4 linked regions of the Homo sapiens genome follow. The protein of the gene in region 2 interacts with the protein of the main gene of each other region in a pairwise test. Each region holds a gene or a part of one and is shown on either strand. Other genes may lie near its edges.

Evidence for each region. Proteins that work in one complex are often made in the same cells at the same time.
Region 1: the proteins of NUTM1 (region 2) and MORN4 interact in binary tests that used the Homo sapiens proteins (3 or more experiments, as listed by UniProt).
Region 3: the proteins of NUTM1 (region 2) and HSPBAP1 interact in binary tests that used the Homo sapiens proteins (3 or more experiments, as listed by UniProt).
Region 4: the proteins of NUTM1 (region 2) and ZMYND10 interact in binary tests that used the Homo sapiens proteins (3 or more experiments, as listed by UniProt).

Annotation. Positions count from the first base shown.
Region 1 is NC_000010.11:97,630,471-97,635,217, forward strand, and holds the start of MORN4 (MORN repeat-containing protein 4), read right to left. Parts: upstream 3,031-4,747; 5' UTR 2,877-3,030; intron 1-2,876. UniProt on the Homo sapiens protein: Plays a role in promoting axonal degeneration following neuronal injury by toxic insult or trauma.
Region 2 is NC_000015.10:34,349,458-34,353,646, reverse strand, and holds part of NUTM1 (NUT family member 1), read right to left. Parts: intron 2,944-4,189; coding exon 2,815-2,943; intron 1-2,814. UniProt on the Homo sapiens protein: Plays a role in the regulation of proliferation. Regulates TERT expression by modulating SP1 binding to TERT promoter binding sites.
Region 3 is NC_000003.12:122,790,802-122,795,572, forward strand, and holds the start of HSPBAP1 (HSPB1-associated protein 1), read right to left. Parts: upstream 3,031-4,771; 5' UTR 2,880-3,030; coding exon 2,816-2,879; exon of another isoform or gene 1-2,815. Other genes in the region: SLC49A4 (solute carrier family 49 member 4), read left to right, coding at 4,392-4,734. UniProt on the Homo sapiens protein: May play a role in cellular stress response.
Region 4 is NC_000003.12:50,342,703-50,347,523, reverse strand, and holds the start of ZMYND10 (zinc finger MYND domain-containing protein 10), read left to right. Parts: upstream 1-1,791; 5' UTR 1,792-1,944; coding exon 1,945-2,036; intron 2,037-2,291; coding exon 2,292-2,400; intron 2,401-3,673; coding exon 3,674-3,790; intron 3,791-3,907; coding exon 3,908-3,961; intron 3,962-4,079; coding exon 4,080-4,217; intron 4,218-4,317; coding exon 4,318-4,406; intron 4,407-4,505; coding exon 4,506-4,606; intron 4,607-4,821. UniProt on the Homo sapiens protein: Plays a role in axonemal structure organization and motility. Involved in axonemal pre-assembly of inner and outer dynein arms (IDA and ODA, respectively) for proper axoneme building for cilia motility.

The DNA of each region.
Region 1 (4,747 bases), on a different chromosome or scaffold from region 2:
TTGGTTTTCAACAGTACATACTACAAACTTCCATTCCATTTTGACTTAGGCACATATAGCAAATTCCCTTCAGCAAATGCTTGCCAAAATGATGTCCATTGCCAAGACCACAGTCAGAAGTGCTAATGAAAGGGAATGTGTGTAGAATCCATGAGTCTCAGGCCATGGTTGAATACATTTGGCTAGAAACTGTCACATGTGCCCAAATAGTTGATATTGTCACTATTTGGGACAGTGTCTGGATTTTATGACTTTTATAATTAACCATGCTAATGAATAGCTTTACAGCTACTGACCTAAAAAGGAATTTCACCAGTAACCATGGTCATTGAGACAAACCTAGTTTAACAAAGTATAGTCAGTGCCGATGAAGACTGAAAGCCCAATACTTTTTTTTTTTTGAGGCAGTCTGGCTCTGTCATCCAAGCTGGAGTGCAGTGGCGTCATCTCAGCCACTGCAACCTCTGCCTCCTGGGCCCAAGCCATCCTCCCACCTTAGCCTCCTGAGTAGCTGGGACTACAGGAGCATGCCACGACACCCAGCTAATTTTTGCATTTTTTGGTAGAGACAGGGTTTTACCACGTTGCCCATGCTGGTCTTGAACTCCTGGGATCAAGTGATCTGCCTGCTTCAGCCTTCCAAAGTGCTAGGATTACAGGTGGGAGCCACCATGTCTGGCCCAATACTTTAATAAGGGATGCAAATCAGTATTTCTATCAGTTATCCAAATCATATTTTTAAAGAGAATATATGGCTCAGGAGTTTAGGCTACAGATACACCCATGGAATCCAGTCACAAACCAAGATGATTCACACTTCTAAACAGACACTCACCCTTTCTGCACTCCTGATAGATGGGTTGCAAAGGATCAGTCCAAACATTTACATAAAAGAAAATTACTATTCTGTCCCTGTAAACCAACACACTATTAGTCTGCACTATATACCATATTCCTGGTATCTTCATTTTCTTTTGTCCCAGACATTTCTTTTTAATTATTATTATTTTCTTATTTCCAAACAGAACTCTGAGGCAATAACGAGAATTTTTGTTTCCGTTCTTTTTATCGTTTTCTAATTTTAAGAAATCAACGTATTAAACAACATTTTTGTATTCACAGTAAACTGTGTCCAATTTAAGAGGATTAAAAAAAAAAAAACTGACATAAAGAGGAAAAAGGGCCAGGCATGATGGCTCACTCCTGTAATCCCAGCACGTTGGGAGGCTGAAGCAAGAGGATCGCTTGAGCCCAGGAGTTCAATACCAAGCTGGGAAACGTAGTGAGACCTCATCTCTACAAAACAATACAAAAATTTGCTGGGTGTGGTGGTGCATGCCTGTAGTCCCAGCTACTCAGGAGGCTGAGGTAGGAGGATTGCTTGAGCCCACAATTTGAGGCTGCCGGGGTGAGCAGTGACTGCACCACACCTGTACTCCAGCCTGGGCAACAGAGCCAGACCTTGTCTCAAAAAAAAGAAAAGAAAAGCAAAACAAAACAAAAGGTTGGGGCGGTGGGGGAGATCCAGTTAGAGAATACTGGGTGGAGGCAGCCACCCTAACTACCCACATGTCCCCCCAGAACCACCCTTCCCAGGGTACAATAGTCTTGTCAAATTATTTCAGTAATAAAGAAAGCAGTTCATAAGCTTTTAGAATCCTAAAGAGAAGAAAATGAAGGCTTTGATGAACAAAGATTAGCCTTGTTAGGAACCTAGAACAAAAAGTCAAATAATACTCCCCTTTTTTTTTTTTTTTTTTTTTTTTGAGACGGAGTCTTGCTCTGTCCCCCATGCTGGAGTGCAGTGGCAGGATCTTGGCTCACTGCAACCGCCGCCTCCCAGGTTCAAGCAATTCTCCTGCCTCAGCCTCCTGGGTAGTTGGGATTACAGGCACGTGCCACCATGCTTGGCTAATTTTTGTATTTTTAGTAGAGACGAGGTTTCACCATCTTGGCCAAGCTAGTTTTGAACTCCTGACTTCGTGATCCACCCGCCTCGGCCTCCCAAAGTGTTGGGATTACAGGCGTGAGCCACCGCGCCCGGCCTAAATATTTTTTTTTAAGTGTTTTAAAAGGAGCTCGAAATAACTGTTTTTCATTATAAGTCTAACCTCCTCTTTCCTCATGTGAAAAGTAAAGAAATGTATCGTTGCTATATGAAGGGTTCGTTTAGGGAAGACTGTGGGATGGTTAGATTGAAGAAAGTGGGAAGAAAATACTGGCGCCAAAAAGATTTTTTTTTTTTTTTATTTAAAGGCGATGATGACCTGGGGGTGATTGGGACTAGGGAGTAATACTGCCAGAATACTATCCTATTTCACGGGAAAGGGAATGCCAGGGCTGGACTCCGATATAGCAGTTATTCCTGCTGGTACCTAAGCAGTTCAGAGATGCTAGAATGCAGGGATACCACCCATCAACTAAATGAAGCATCCCATTCCCCAGGCTTCCATATGTGGGAGTTCTCTCCACCAGTGAGATAAAGGCGGGCTCAGGGAAAACAAAGCCCTAGACCACAACAAGGCAACACCTTCTCGCACCCCATTTTCACCTTCCAGGCGCGTTCCTTCCTGCTATCCGGGCCCGCTCTCCCGCCCGGCAGGGTCTAACGCTCACACAGGTCTGCCAATTCCCCTGATGCAACCCTCCACCCTCTGCTCGCTAACCCCAGTCCAGTCAGCTCTCCCGGGCCTCGACCCCCGCGGTGGAGACTAAAGGGTTCAGGTTTGGGTCCCCCACAGGCAACCGCCCTCAGGTCAGCGTATCCGAGGTGGAGCCGCGCCCCCGAGCCGGGTCATCTCGTGCTCCGTTCCTCAGTGCCCACCTGACCGATCACACTCTTTCCCGGCCCCCTCCCTCCTGCGCCTCCAGCCAACCTGGGGCCGGCCTTTCGGGATGACCGTCACGCCTGGACGCAGGGTTCCAGCGCCTCGGACTTTTCCTCTGATGGGCTCCCGGCTGCCACCTTGCTCTCCGCCACCTCCACCAGCGATTGCCCCACTTGACGCCGCCATCCTGGGCGACCGCACTGGGTACAATTCCCGCTGCCCATTGGCTGTTACCTAGGCAACCGGGAGCAACGCCACTCCGCATTGGCCCAGCCCGGCTCCACGCCATCTTTGTGCGGGGCCGAGTGTTTGCGAACCCGGGCTGACTATGTGAAAGAGGGGTGGTCCCACCTCTGCAACGCAGATAAAGACAGAGGATCCAGATCTGGCCTACCCAGAGGCCGTCTAGTTGAAATGGCAACCCCAAAGAAAACCAAACCTGCGCCCGAAGCAACAGTGACCATCAACGCGAGCGGCTCTGATCTTGCTCCAGTCCCCACTGCTGTCAAGGGCCCCGCCGCGGAGTTTAAGGCAGATCCTAAATCCAGCTTCAGAGAGGCAGCTTTGTAAATTGTAACGCGCTAGGCAGGATAGCCTCCAATAACTCTGTGCTAGACATTGTGATATCAAGACACTTTTGCATTCATTATAGGAATTTGTGCTGTCCTTGTCATTATCTAGATCCTTTTTGTTTAAAATATAGTACCTGGCCAGGCGCAGTGGCTCACATCTGTAATCCCAGCACTTCGGGAGGCCGCGGCTTGAGCTCAGGAGTGCGGGAGGCTTGAGCCCAAGAGTTCTAGATCAGCCTGGGCAACGCAGGGAGACTCCGTATCTACAGAAGAAAAAAATTACCCAGCCTAGTGGTGGGTGCCTGTAGTCACAGCTACTCAGGAGGCTGAGGTGGGAGGATCCCTTGAGCCCAGGAGGTTGAGGCTGCAATAAGCCATGATTCTGCCACTGTACCCCAGCCTGGGCGACCTAGCAAGACCCTGTCTCAAATAAATAAATTGCAAACCAAAAAGTATCTGAGACAGGTCTCAATCAATTTAGGAGTTTATTTTGCCAATGTTAAGGACATGCCCGTGACACAGCCTTAGAAGGTCCTAAGAATGTGTGTCCAAAATAGTCGGGACACCACTTGATTTTATACATTTTAGGGAGACGTAAGACATCAATCAATACATGTAAAATATACATTGGCTTGGTCCCGAAAGTGGGGGTGGGGGTGGCAAGTTCCAGGATGTAGGTGGATTCAAAGATGTCCTGATTGACAATTGGTTGAAAGAGTTTAAAGACCTGGAACCCACAGAAGGGAATGTCTGGGTTAAGTTAAGGAATTGTTACTAAGATATGCACGCACACACACACACACACACACACACACACACACACAAGGAATTGTGGAAATCAAGGTTTTTATTATGCAGAGAAGGCTACAGGTAGCAGGCTCCAGAGAGCATAGATTGTAAATGTTTCTTTATTTTTTTTTTTGTTTTGAGACAGGGTCTCCCTCTGTCACCCAGTCTGGAGTGCAGTAGCTGGATCACGGCTTACTGCAGCCTTGACCTCCCAGGCTCAAGTTATCCTCCCACCTCAGCCTCCTAAGTAGCTGAGACTACTGGTTCATTCCACTATGCCTGGCTTATTTTTGTATTTTTTGTAGAGATGGTGTTTTGTCATGTTGCCCAGGCTGGTATTGAACTCCTGGGCTCAAGTGATCCTCCCATCTCTGCCTCCCAAAGTGCTAGGATTACACGTGTGAGCCACCAAGGCTGGCCAGTGTTTATTATCAGATTTAGAAAGGTATCAGACTCTTAGTTAGTTCTCCCCTGGATCAGGAAAAAGACCTGGAAAGGGAAGGGGATTTTCTACAGAATGTAGATTTTCACCATAAAAGACACCTTTGCCTGCTATCA
Region 2 (4,189 bases):
GAAGTGCTCTCAGGTGGGCAAAGTCTGCCTAAGTCATGTCACCCAGGAGGGTGGTCACAGGTGGCTTAATCGTATTTCCAGGGAAACTTCAGGAGCTCAGCACATAGTTCCTTCCCCTATAGTCATAACTTAGGAAGCTTAAGAAAATGAATGGCCAGGTGGGGTGGCTCATGCCTATAAACCCAACACTTTGGGAGGCTGAGGTGGGCAGATTGCTTGAGCCCAAGAGTTTGAGACCAACCTGGGTAACACGGCAAAAACCCATCTCTACAAAAGATACCAAAAAAATTAGCCAAGAGTGATGACGCGCGTCTAGTCACAGCTATTGTGGGGCTGAGGTGGGAGGATCGCTTGAGCTCAAGAGGTGAAGGCTGCAGTGAGCCATGACAGTGCCACTGCACTCCAGCCTGGGCAACAGAGTGAGATCCTGCCTCAAGAAAATTTTTAAAAAGTAAAGAATGAGGCCAGGCGCAGTGGCTCACGCCTGTAACCCCAGCACTTTGGGAGGCTGAGGCGGGCGGATCATGAGGTCAGGAGTTCGAGACCAGCCTGGCCAACATAGTGAAACCCCGTCTCTACTAAAAATGCACAAAATTAGCCTGATGTGGTGGTGGGTGCCTGTAATCCCAGCTACTCGGGAGGCTTAGGCAGGAGAATCACTTGAACCCAGGAGGCAGAGGTTGCAGTGAGCCGAGATCGTGCCATTGCACTCCAGCCCAGGCAACAGTGTGAGACTTTGTCTCAAAAAAAAAAAAAAAAAAAAAAAAAAGTTAAGAATGATCTAGAGCTTGTAAACTTCTCTTGGACACAGTGAGGGCTTTCAGTACTTGTTTTTGTTTTTGAGACAGAGTCTCACTCTGTCGCCCAGGATGAAGTGCAGTGGCCCAATCTCGGCTCACTGCAACCTCTGCCTCCCGGGTTCAAGTGATTCTCCTGCCTCAGTCTCCTGAGTAGCTGGGACTACAGGTGCGTGCCACCACGCCTGGCTTTTTTTTTTTTTTTTTGTATTTTTAGTAGAGACGGGGTTTCACCGTGTTAGCCAGAATGGTCTCAATCTCCTGACTTCATGATCCGCCCGCCTCACCCTCCCAAAATGCTGGGATTACAGGTGTGAGCCAATGTGCCCGGCCTCACTTGTTTTCCGTACCTATCTCACCCAGCTTCATGGATTGTACACAGCAGTGCTCAATATAGGCTTGTTTAACTTAATCAGGCCTATGCAACAGCCTGGTGGGATCTCACAGTGGGATCCTCCTCAAGACCTCATTTGCCCCTGCCTACAACCACAAAGAATTCAAGGCAGTTCCTACCAGGAAACAATGTGAGATCCCAGAGTCCTGAGACTGGGATGGGATTCTTGGAAAGGTAAGTCTAGGAAGCATGGGTCCAAAAGGTTTTGGGAGGGAGTAAGTGGAAGCTAAGCTTGGAAGAATCTGTTCATTTTTCTGAGTTTTTTCTTTCTTTCTTTCTTTTTTTGAGACAGAGTTTCGCTCTTGTTGCCGAGGCTGGAGTGCAATGGCACAATCTCGGCTCACCGCAACCTCTGCCTCCTGGGTTCAAGCGATTCTCCTGCCTCAGCCTCCTGAGTAGCTGGGATTACAGGCATGCGCCACCATGCCTGGCTAATTTTGTATTTTTAGTAGAGATGGGGGTTTCTCCATGTTAGTCAGGCTGGTCTCGAACTCCCGACCTCAGGTGATCTGCCTGCCTCGGCCTCCCAAAGTGCTGGGATTACAGGCGGAGCCACCACGCCTAGCCTTTTTTTTTTTTTTTTAATCAAAGATATTATAGAGAAATAGAAGAAGAGCCAGGAGACAACTTTGGGCATCCAGGACACTGGCTTTCCCCGGCTCTTCCAGAACCAGCCCCCTCCCTGGGATAAAGGCGGAAAGGGATTTTCTGTGCCACTATTTCCAATGGAGGAGTGGTCCTGAAGTTCTGTATCAATAGCCACTTGCTACCAAGTCAATGAGAAGAGAAAAGAACCTGCCTGGTAGAGCACACCTCCTCATTGCTAGGTCCCTTCAGCATGAAATTTCTATATCTATCGGGGTCCAATCTCCAATCCCATCCTAAGACCTACAATATCAAGGCTCCTATACAGATTCAGGATCTGGTGAGGGGGGAGCTTTCAAGAGGAAACAGGATAGAAAAACCCAAGAGTCAAGGTGGTGGAAGAAGAAGCAAGGATCCAGGAAACTGCCATCCTAGTCTACACCCCTCCTCCCGTCCCTTTTTTTCTTTTCTTTTCTTTTTTTTTTTTTTGTGATGAGGTCTTGCTATGTTGTCCAGGCTGGTCTTGAACTACTGAACCCAAACCATCCTCCCACCTTAGCCTCTAGAGTAGCTGGGACTACAAGCACACACCCAGCCTAACATCCCTTTTTTTTTTTTTTTTTTTTTTTTTTTTTTTTTTTTTGAGATGGAGTCTTGCTCTGTCACCCATGCTGGAGTGCAGAGGCATGATCTTGGCTCACAGCAACCTCCACCTCCCAGGTTCAAACGATTCTCCTGCCTCAGCCTCCTGAGTAGCTGGGACTACAGGCACATGCCACCATGCCCGGCTAATTTTTGTATTTTTTTTTTTTTTAGTAGAGACAGGGTTTCGCCATGTTGGCCAGGCTGTTCTCGAACTCCTGACCTCAGGTGATCCACCGGCCTTGGCCTCCCAAAGTGGTGGGATTACAGGCGTGAGCCGCTGCGCCCCATCCTAACATGGCTTTTGATAATCACCCCCACACAAGTCTCTCTGCGGCCCTTACTGCTCTCAGCCACACAGCCTCCCTCAGGAGAATGAAGGTTCATCGAACTCACCTTTCTGCCATCTCATAAAAGATCATCCGGTCAAAGTTGCTGGTGTGCTCCCACTCCTGCACAGCCAATGGCAGTCCCTCCTCCAGGGTCATAGTGGGCTTCAGCCGGGCCAGGGAACGAAGCACTGGGCTAAAACCCCCATTGAGTCAGTCACATTCTAAAAGTGTGCTCCCATCCACCTGCCCTGACACCTACATCAATAACACATCCCCTGCCCCTCATCAAATCTATTGTGCCCCTTAGGGCCTGTCGTGTCCCACTTCTGATTAGACTTACAGACGCTCAACCTCCCATCCATTCATCTACCATACTCGCCCCTCTTCCTGTTGAACTTTACAACTAATATAAAATCAAACAGACAATTCTTCTCCCCACCTTTTAAAATCAATGGCAACTACCACCCCTAATTATCACAGTGCCATCCTCAATTAATTATTAGAAAGGGAGGACTCGCGTTATTAAATGAATGGGATTTGCTATAAAGTATGTTTAACCTTGTCCAAAGGCTCTTGCATTTTTTCTTTAAAGGCATTTGCTAACCCAAAGGAATCTCTAATTAAAGGTCATGTGGTGTTTTTATTTATTGGTTTTTCAGTCTTTGTTTCCAGATATTCCCCACAGACAGTTAAATGCCAGTACTAGACCCCCACTTCTAGAGGGCTCTTGAGCCCTTCCTAATCCAGAAGAAATCAAGAGCCCAGCCTAAAGCAAGGGCTTCATTTTTGTCTCTCTGACTCCCTTGGAGTCCTCAGACATTATTGGGCATCAGAATCGCTTGGGGAAGCTCGTTATAATCAACTTGCAGCTCCCCAGGATCCCACAACTGAGCATTTTAGGAGCTTCCCATGTTGCAGTGGTCTGGACTGCCTCTTGTGGAAGACCCTGCCCAGAGCCCCTGAGTGTGAAGCACAAGCAGACCAGGACCCAAAGCAAATGGATCCCATGCAAACCTTGAGAGCCCACATTGGTTCAAGATTTTGAAATTTAGCCTGCTAGGCTCCAAGAGCGAACTCAGATCTGCCTTGAGAAAGCAGGGAGCCTGAAGACGCTGTACATCTAGGACTTTGGGGGAACATCTTGATTCATTTGCTCCAAGTTCGGGGTAGAGGGATTCCTTTAGGAGTTCAGCCACTGGAAGAGCACCATGTACATTTGTTTAAAGCAATAAAATGTGGTATGTGTTATATAGCGGCTTACACAAAATGCTGAGGGCACAGGGCAGTTGAGAGGGACAGTGGGTCTGGGTGGGAAGGGAAGACTGTTCCCCAGCTGAGGAATGACTGTTTTGTAAACAAAACAGCCTAGGACCCTGGGCTCCTTGACTAAACACACACTCGCTCTTAAGCAAGGACGTTTTGACCTTTTGCGAGTTCTT
Region 3 (4,771 bases), on a different chromosome or scaffold from region 2:
TGAGACCCTGTATCTACAAAAATAAAAAATAAACCAAAAATTTTAAAAATGAACTTTTCTATGACTCCCATTGTATTCATCATTGTACTGAACATACTGACCCTTTCACTTGACTTTATTTAATGTATTTATTTTTCTCATTCTCTTACATAACATCTCTAATTTCTTTTCTTTCAGTTTCAACATCAGTTACTAAGGCTGGCACTTTCTATTAATAATAAAAATGGTCACGATTCTTGAATATCCAATTCCTGCCAGATACTATGCTAGATAATCTACACATATTAACTCTAATCTTCACAATAATCATGCATTTTACAGAGGAGGAAACTGAGGCTCAAAGGGATTAAGTACCTTGTCCTCCAGTCTTTCTCCCTCCAATCGGTCTTCTACCCTTCAGCCAAAGTGATCTTCCTACAACCAAATCTAATCATGTTATTTCCCTCACCTAAAGCTCTTTAAGGCTTCCTACTGTCTTAATGTCTAGATTCCTTAACTAGGCCTAAGGTAACCTTCAGGATACCTCTTTTCTTACCACTCCTGACACCAACTTCTTTCAGTTCTTGGACCATGCCATGCTTTCTCCTTTTGCCTCTGGACTTGGCATGGAGTGCCCTTATTCATCCACTCAACAAACATGTGGCATGTGCCAACTATGTGCCTGGCATTGTACTAGCAGCTGGGCACATGGTAGAGAATGAAACAGACATAGGTCCTGCCCTCAAGGTACTTATGATCTAATGGAAAAAACAAATAATAAATAATTACAGATTGTAGTAAGTAAAATGACAGAAGCAGGATGCTGTATTCCAGAACATCTAGGGTTGGGGGGTGCAAGAGAAATCACAGTGACTGTTTTAAATAGTTTGATCTGGTAAGGTCTCAGGTGGTGACATACTTTAAAAGCTAAAGATTAAGCCAGCTATGTGAAAAGCCAAAGGGGAGGTGAGTGACAAGAGATCCTGCTAAAGACATCAGCAGAGCCCAGACCAAGGATTATTACAGGCCACGGTTAAGAATCTGGGTTTTATTCTAACTTCTAAGGGCAATGTAATTCGCTGAAGAATTTTACATAAGGAAGAGTCACTTTTTGCTGCAGAGTGGAGAAGGGATTAGAGGGGCACAGAATAGAAAACAGAGACACAAGTCAGTCAGGAAGATACAGTAGTAGTTGAGGTGAGAAAATGTGGATGATTTGAAGTACGGTCTGATAGTGAAAGGAAAAAAGTAGACAGATTAGATGCAGAATTGACCTGACTTGCAAAGTCATTACCTGAAATTAAGAAAGAGGCAGAGAGAGGTTATAGAGTTTGGGAATTTGTCATTGGAGAACGTTAGCAGGCTCACTAGAGAAACAGAGGATCAGAGGGATCTCAAGCCCATACTGACTGAATATTCAAGAGTTTGGCCATTTTCACTTTATACGGTCATCAGTTTGTGCAGGACTTTTTCCAGCAAAGTTCAGGCCCACGGGTGCAGGTACAAAGAGGGCAAAAGGTTGACTTCATCCAGAGTAAGAGTTTTGTCAGAAAAAAGTGCAGGAAGGGACAAGAGAATTTTTCAAAGGAACGACATACATTCTGGATAAGGGGGTGCAGTGGATAGAAAATGGAAAGATCAATGCAATGGAGGTATAGATGAAGGTCAAGAATTGTCTCCCTGGTAGAAAGTGGTCAGATAGTAGGAGGCTATAATTTGTTTCTTCTGCTTGGAATGGGCATCTCCCCCTTCAGCAAACTGTTTGACCCCTAAATACATCCATCCTTTTCTGCTCCCTGACTTCCTGAACCCCAGCACCACTCCCTGAGTTTGTCACCATCTCATCCAATCAGAAAGGCCCACCTCAGCGGATCACAAGGTCAAGAGAGCGAGACCATCCTGGCCAACATGGTGAAACCCCGTCTCTACTAAAAATACAAAAATTAGCTGGGCGTGGTGGCACGCTTGTAGTCCCAGCTGCTTGGGACGCTGAGGCAGAAGAATTGCTTGAACCTGGGAGGTGGAGGTTGCAGTGAGCCAAAATCGCGCCACTGCACTCCAGCCTGGTGACAGAGCGAGACTCCGTCTCAAAAAAAGAAAAAAAAAAAAAGAGAGAAAAGAAAAAGAAAGGCCGACCTCAAACTATTCGCTCCTTGAAGCATTTATGTTCTCCCCACTGAGATCCCTCCTCCTAACAACCCTCACAGAGTGTACTACTGGTAGAATAGTTCAGGTGACCACATAGTAAGTCATTCTTTTTCCTTTCTAGGCTCCTTTGGAAAAGGTATTGTTATAAATATTCAAAAGTCTCTGGATCCTGCGACAGTATTCAGAACACAGCCCTGCACGGTGCAATCATTCAATAAATAATAACAGGGATCTCAGGCTCATGGGCCTCCAAACCTCATCCCCACTTGCTAAACCAGGGTTCACTGAAATAGAATAAAAGCGCATAATCCCTGTTCACAAAAGTCTCAGATAACTTCCATTAATCTCAAAGGTTGCCTTCAATTTCACAAATTTAATTTTAATCCCCTCTAAACGTTCAAAACACCTCTATTTAGCTAATGATGGGCAAATATAAAACAAAACAAAACAAAAATAACACCCCATGCGTGAAACAGCACTCGTAGGCTACCCTACGACGATCAAAAATCTGGATGCCACAATTCGAGAAATGCCACGCTCACTAGAAAATATAGATTTTTCTTCATAGTCTAATGCAAGGCCAGAGAGACCTGGGTTGGGGCTAAGGCAAACGGCCCCACGAGGGGTGCCACGAGAGTCAACTGGCATTGGGTTTGTACTCAGGGTCGGACCTCAGCCTGGCACCTACCTTCCTCCCCTCCAGCCCCAGCCGCAACGATCACAGGAGTGGTCGCCTCGGAGCCTGCTGCCATGGCTACCGCAAGGCGGGTTCTGCCGGAACCCAAGGCGGAGCGGAGCTGGGGTGGGGTCAGAGTAGGGGCCAAACTCCGAGACCCGAAGCTGCACCACAGGAAGGAGCCCCGGCGACTCCCGCCCGGCTCCTACGGAAACGCCGGCTCTCACGTGGAGGTCACGTGACGGATGCTGGGCGGGACCACGCAGCTTTGTTTTGATACCCCGGGTGTGGAAATACAAACACGTGGTCTGAGTTGTGGCGCTTTTTACCTAACCCGGACCTTAGCGTTCTTTATTGTAGTCTTAGCTTCGTTTCTGTTTCTCCTTTTCTAGTCAGATCCTTCCTTTCCACCTCGGCTTTTCTCCACCCTAAAGGATTGGAGTTTTAGGGGAAGGTTTGCCGCTTAGTGGGGCTCCGGCGGTGGGATGGGTCTCTGCCGTGAGCTTTCGCGAGCCGCTCTTGGCAGCCTGGAATGCGAGGCTAGCTCACGCTTCTCTTACACCTCTCTTGCCCTTCTGGTGGTAACCTGACTCCTTCTGATTTTAGTGGCTGCCGGGAAATACGAACCTCGGGCAAAGAATCCTGTGATTGCGTTCCCTGTGACTCATTTCCCGATCCAGACAAGCCAAATTGCTTGACTTTAGGTTTTCAAGGACACTAATCCACAGCTGTCAGGCTTCTGAATTTGTATACCAAAATAAACAAACAGCTGTGTGAAGAGATCAACAACCACCTTTCTTCTCGTTTACCCTGTGGTCAAATCATAATCACTGGAGATGGATCTTTGGGGCAAAAATCTTCCAACTTTACTGGACATACCTTTATTGCTCGCCTATTGGCAGGCGAAATGGGTAAAGTTTACATATATATGAATGAAATTGGCTAGTTTGGAATCTCCTCTTTGGATATGTAAGACAAAAAAGTAACAAAAATAGGTAGTACTTATTGCACGTAAGAAATGATTTTTATGAGATAATCCCCTGGGACCAACTACGCTTAAACTTTATCCTTCGCCTATAATTTCTGAAGTTACTAACTCAACAAAAATGAGAATAAGCCCAAAATAGAAGCAAGCATCAGGTTAACTGACGTCACTTAACAGGTCACTGAGTTGTTTATTAGGCACAAGATTTAACTTGGACACTTCCTCCAAACACCCCAGGGTTCCTTGCCCAACCTCCTCGAATACAGCCTCTCTGGGAGTTTCCCTCTCCCCGACTCAGCCGCGCTGGTCCCTGCCTTTTCAGCGCTACCTGCCCTCCGTCTGGGACCTGGCTCCTTTCCTCTCGCCGGTGTTTCCTCGCCACCCGCGGAGGGGAGGGCGGACCCCAGCCTCCTTGCCGCCTGCCCCGCCTCCCCGCCTCCCCGCCGGCCCGGCTCGGGCCGCGCAGGCGCACCAGGCGCGGTCCGGAGGCCGAGGGCGACCACAGCAGCCTCCGCCTCCTGCTGCTCAGGACTATTCTGCGCTGGGCTAGTCGGCGGTGACCCGGACTGCGCCCGGCAGTGGCTTCGCGGGCGACGCGTCGCCATGGGCTCTCGCTGGAGCAGCGAAGAGGAGAGGCAGCCGCTGCTGGGGCCCGGGCTCGGGCCTGGGCTGGGGGCCTCCTGGAGAAGCCGGGAGGCGGCGGCGGCGGCGCTGCCCGCGGCGGTCCCGGGTCCCGGGCGGGTATACGGGCGCCGCTGGCTGGTGCTGCTGCTCTTCTCGCTGCTGGCGTTCGTTCAGGGCCTGGTCTGGAACACCTGGGGTCCCATCCAGAACTCGGCGCGCCAGGCCTACGGCTTCTCCAGCTGGGACATCGCGCTGCTCGTGCTGTGGGGGCCCATCGGCTTCCTGCCCTGCTTCGCGTTCATGTGGCTCCTGGACAAGAGAGGTGAGGGGTCGCGGAGCGCCAGCCCGCGCTGTCTCTC
Region 4 (4,821 bases), on a different chromosome or scaffold from region 2:
TTAGTTCTGTAAATAAAGACATCCATTTCAAACAGCCTTTATTGAGTGCTGTTTCTGGGCCAGCCGTGGGAGACCCAGCAGTGAATGAAATAGCCACGAGCCGTGGGCTAGATCGCCATCTGGTGGGCAGGACCGACAATCGACAAATAAAAGTGCCGGTTAATTACAAAAAAAAAAAAAAAAAAAAAAAAAAATCGTCCTGATGCGGTGACTCACCTGTAGCCCCAGCTACTCAGGAGGCTGAAGTGGGGGGATCATTTGAGGCCACGAGTTGGAGGCTACATTTAGCTGTGATCCCATCACTGCACCCCAGCCTGGGTGACAGAGCAAGACCCCATCTCAATAATAATAATAATAATAAATAAACCTAGAAAGAAGCAGATGTAGCCAGGCGCGGTGGCTCATGCCTATAATCCCAGCACTTTGGGAGGCTGAAGCGGGCAGATCACCTGAGGTCAGATGTTCAAAAACAGCCTGGCCAACATAGTGAAACCCCATCTCCACTAAAAAAAAATACAAAAAATTAGCCAGGTGTGGTGGTGCACACCTGTAATCCCAGCTACTCAGGAAGCTGAGGCAGGAGAATCACTTGAACCTGGGAGGCAGAGGTTGCAGTGAGCCAAGATCATGCCACTGCACTCCAGCCTAGGTGACAGGAGACTCAATTTCAAAAAAAGATGTGATCAAGAGTGAGTTGGGTTGGAGGCAGGGACTGCTCTGGATTAAATGGCCAAGAAAGGCCATGCTGAGGTGTAAACTGAGCCCTGAAGGAAAAGTATTCCAGGCAAAGTGCAAAACTCTGAGGCAAAAACCTCTTTGGAATGTATGAGGGAGGTTCAGGGAAGCAAGGAGGAGAGGAAAGAATCCAAGTCCCGAGGTACAGGAGAGGACAAGAAGTAGATCTTGCAGAGCTGCTAGTAAGCGGCATCCCACCTAACATTTTGAGGGCCAGAAGTAGCCACAGAGCCCCTCTCACGCAAGGGAGTAATGTCTATATGCTTTTTTTTTTTTTTTGAGACGGTCTCCCTTTGTTGTCCAGGCTGGAGTGCGGTGGTGCAATCTTGCCTCACTGCAAACTCCACCTCCTGTGCTCAAGCGATTCTCCTGCCTCAGTCTCCCATGTAGCTGGGACTACAGGTGTGTGCTACCACACCTGTCTAATTTTTGTACTTTTAGTAGAGACAGGGTTTCACCATGTTGCCCAGGCTGGTCTCAAACTCCTGACCTCAAGTGATCCGCCTGCCTCGGCCTCCCAAAGTGCTGAGATTACAGGTGTCAGCCACCGCGCCCGGCCTGATATACACTTTTAAGGCTCCGGGCTGTCCATGAGGATCAAGCGTGGAAGTAGGTCTACAGAAAAGGCTGCCGCAGTTCACCCATGACAGGTGATGACAGTCTGGACATAGGGAGGATGGAGAGAAGTCGTGCGCCCTGGCAGTATTTCAGGAGCCAACTAGTGGAGCCGGGACGCGAGAAATAGAGGAACCAAGAAGCCATAAGGAGGAGGAAGAGCAGCGGGTAGGTCAAGATGCCACAGCCGCAGGAGGGGCTGTTGGGGTCGGGGTTACCCCCATCCCTGTGCAGGCGGACTTGGCGTCTGAGGACAGAGTCCAGACCACAAGGATCTGGAGCTCAGGAGAGACTCGTGGGCCACAGCCCGAGAAAGCGCTGGGAATCCAAATACTATGGCGATTGGCAGTCGCGTAGGCGAGGCGGGCTAGAGACCCGCCCGGATTTAGGCGCGAGCCACCTCCAGGGGCGGGGCCCAGGCCGCACTGCGCAGGCGCGGCTAACCCGTTTCCATGGCTGCGAGAACTGACGCTCCCCAACCGTCCCGCAACTGTCCTGTCCCAGACTTTGGCACCGTCGGGGTCCGTCGTCCCCGAATGTGACAGCATCCCCACCCCGGCTGCTGCCCAGGATCCGCCGGACCCCGGCCTCGATATGGGAGACCTGGAACTGCTGCTGCCCGGGGAAGCTGAAGTGCTGGTGCGGGGTCTGCGCAGCTTCCCGCTACGCGAGATGGGCTCCGAAGGGTGAGGCACCCGGGTCAGGCGGAGTCCCGGAGTCATTGTCCTTGAGTCGGGGAGCTGGGGCCTGACTCGGGGGAGGGGCTGCCCAGTGTGGAGGGGCTCCCAAATGGGGGAGCAGAGCGTTCCGAGACAGGAGTATTACTGCTCCTGAGCCCCCTGTGTCCCCTCAGGATCAGGTTAGGCTTCAGTAGGATCCAGCCCCCATCCCCACTCCTAATGCACACACGTGGACGCACATGCACTTACCCTCTGAGGCAGGTGGAACCAGCAGCATGAGAACCTGGAGAAGCTGAACATGCAAGCCATCCTCGATGCCACAGTCAGCCAGGGCGAGCCCATTCAGGAGCTGCTGGTCACCCATGGGAAGGTACCCCGAGGTCACAGGCAGGGTTCCTGCCTTCCCCCATACCTCACCTACTCTACCCCTCCGGAGTCCCCTGTGTGCCCTTCCCCTCTGGCCTGGTACACCTGTTCTCCCTGAAGGACAAAGAGGAATGTGTTACATGTTTCATTTTGTATCCCTATTGGACAGGACTCTGGCACACCAGGCTGGGTGCAGGGCATGAGTTGATTAGGGAGAAAGCTGTAGGTCCTAGAACAGCTTAGGCTTCAAGGGGAAGGCCCAAATGCTAAAGGCATCTGTGAATTGACTGTAAGGCTGGTGGTGGGGAAGGGGTGGGGAGGGGTTGGGGAGGGCGGGAGGGAGGGGAGATAACCTAACTGGAGGTGGAACTTCGGCATGGAAGGAAGCAGCCTTCCCAACATGAAAGGGGGAAGTTAGAAACCAGGGAGATGCCTGGCTGGAACATGGACCAGGGAGTGTCACCAGCAGATGACCTGAGATATCAATTGACCAAAAAAAAAAAAAAAAAAGCCGGGCATGGTAGCTCATGCCTGTTATCCCAGCATTTTGGGAGGCCAAGACGGGTGGATCATCTGAGGTCAGGAGTTCAAGGCCAGCCTGGCCAACATGGTGAAACCCCACCTCTACTAAAAATACAAAAATTTGCAGAGCATGGTGGTGCACACCTGTAATCCCAGCTACTCGGGAGGCTGAGGCAGGAGAATCGCTTGAACCTGGGAGGCAGAGGTTACAGAGAGCCAAGATCATGCCACTGCACTCCAGCCTGGGTGACAAGAGTGAAACTCCGTCTCAAAAAAAAAAAAAAAAAAAAGAAAGGTCCTTTGCAAAAGAAAGATGGAACTCATACTAGGGGATAGGATAGGAACAGGGCACTGTGAAGGGTCCTGAGTAGGAGTGAGGCCAAGGCACACAAGAGCTTTGGAGGACCACAGACAGGGACTAGAGGGAGGGCATGAGGAGAAGGGCTGGCTTGAAAGGGATGCCTGAATGGGCGGGCAGAGGATAAGGGTGCAGGTGCAGGCAGGGCAAGGCAGTCTGGGAACTGGGCAGGAGCCAGTCACATAAGCATGAGGGACATCCACAGAGGTGTTGGGAGCAGCTGGTAATGAAGGTCCAAGGTGCAAGAGAGAAGTCAGGAAGGATACTCATGGGTCTGGAATAGTTTAGGGGCCCAGCAGTGTTTGGGGATATCAGGGTTGAGCTGAGCCGGGGATGGGAGGGTTGCCAGGCAAAGGTAGGCCCATCTCATCCCTGTCCTTTACCCTACCCTTCAAAGGTCCCAACACTGGTGGAGGAGCTGATCGCAGTGGAGATGTGGAAGCAGAAGGTGTTCCCTGTGTTCTGCAGGGTGGAGGACTTCAAGCCCCAGAACACCTTCCCCATCTACATGGTGGTGAGCTGGGCCCCTGGTTCATACCTCTTCTCACTCCTTCAGAGGGCTCTGGACCGGGGAGGAGAGCTGGTAGCCCCTATCCCTTCCTCAGGCCCTGTCCTTCTCTTTATCTGACAGGTGCACCACGAGGCCTCCATCATCAACCTCTTGGAGACAGTGTTCTTCCACAAGGTGAGGGACTATCTCTGCCCATGGGCCACAGTTCCGGGTCAGGGCCTGGCAGGAAGGGAGATTGTGTCTGTGTGGGGAAGGCATCAGACACAGAAAGTTTCCCTCCTCCTTTTCCCAGGAGGTGTGTGAGTCAGCAGAAGACACTGTCTTGGACTTGGTAGACTATTGCCACCGCAAACTGACCCTGCTGGTGGCCCAGAGTGGCTGTGGTGGCCCCCCTGAGGGGGAGGGATCCCAGGACAGCAACCCCATGCAGGTGGGTTGAGGTTACCTAGGGTTGTGAAAGCCTAGGTCTGGGTTCCCCAAGGCCTGCGCAGGTGAGGGTGGCCCAGCGTGAACACTGTGTGACCTCCCAGGAGCTGCAGAAGCAGGCAGAGCTGATGGAATTTGAGATTGCACTGAAGGCCCTCTCAGTACTACGCTACATCACAGACTGTGTGGACAGGTGAGCAGTCCGACTGGGCCTGGGCCTACTGTGGAGGGCTGGAAGACCGGGCCTGTAGCCTGCCTCTACTCACCTCCTTCACAACGTCCCTGCCCCTAGCCTCTCTCTCAGCACCTTGAGCCGTATGCTTAGCACACACAACCTGCCCTGCCTCCTGGTGGAACTGCTGGAGCATAGTCCCTGGAGCCGGCGGGAAGGAGGTAGGGTCCTCCCCCACCAGCCTAAGCCCCAGGCTACTGCTTCAGGGTATCTTTTTGATAGAGGGGGGCAGCTTGCACACACGAAGACAAACCCTGTCCCCAAGCCCACTGAGGATACCAGGATGCCTCAGCCAAGGTTGGCCTAGACCTGAGCTCTGCAGCAGGCCAGGCCCATGTGTCCACTACTGAGGCTCACCCTGCTCTGGGGTCAGCAG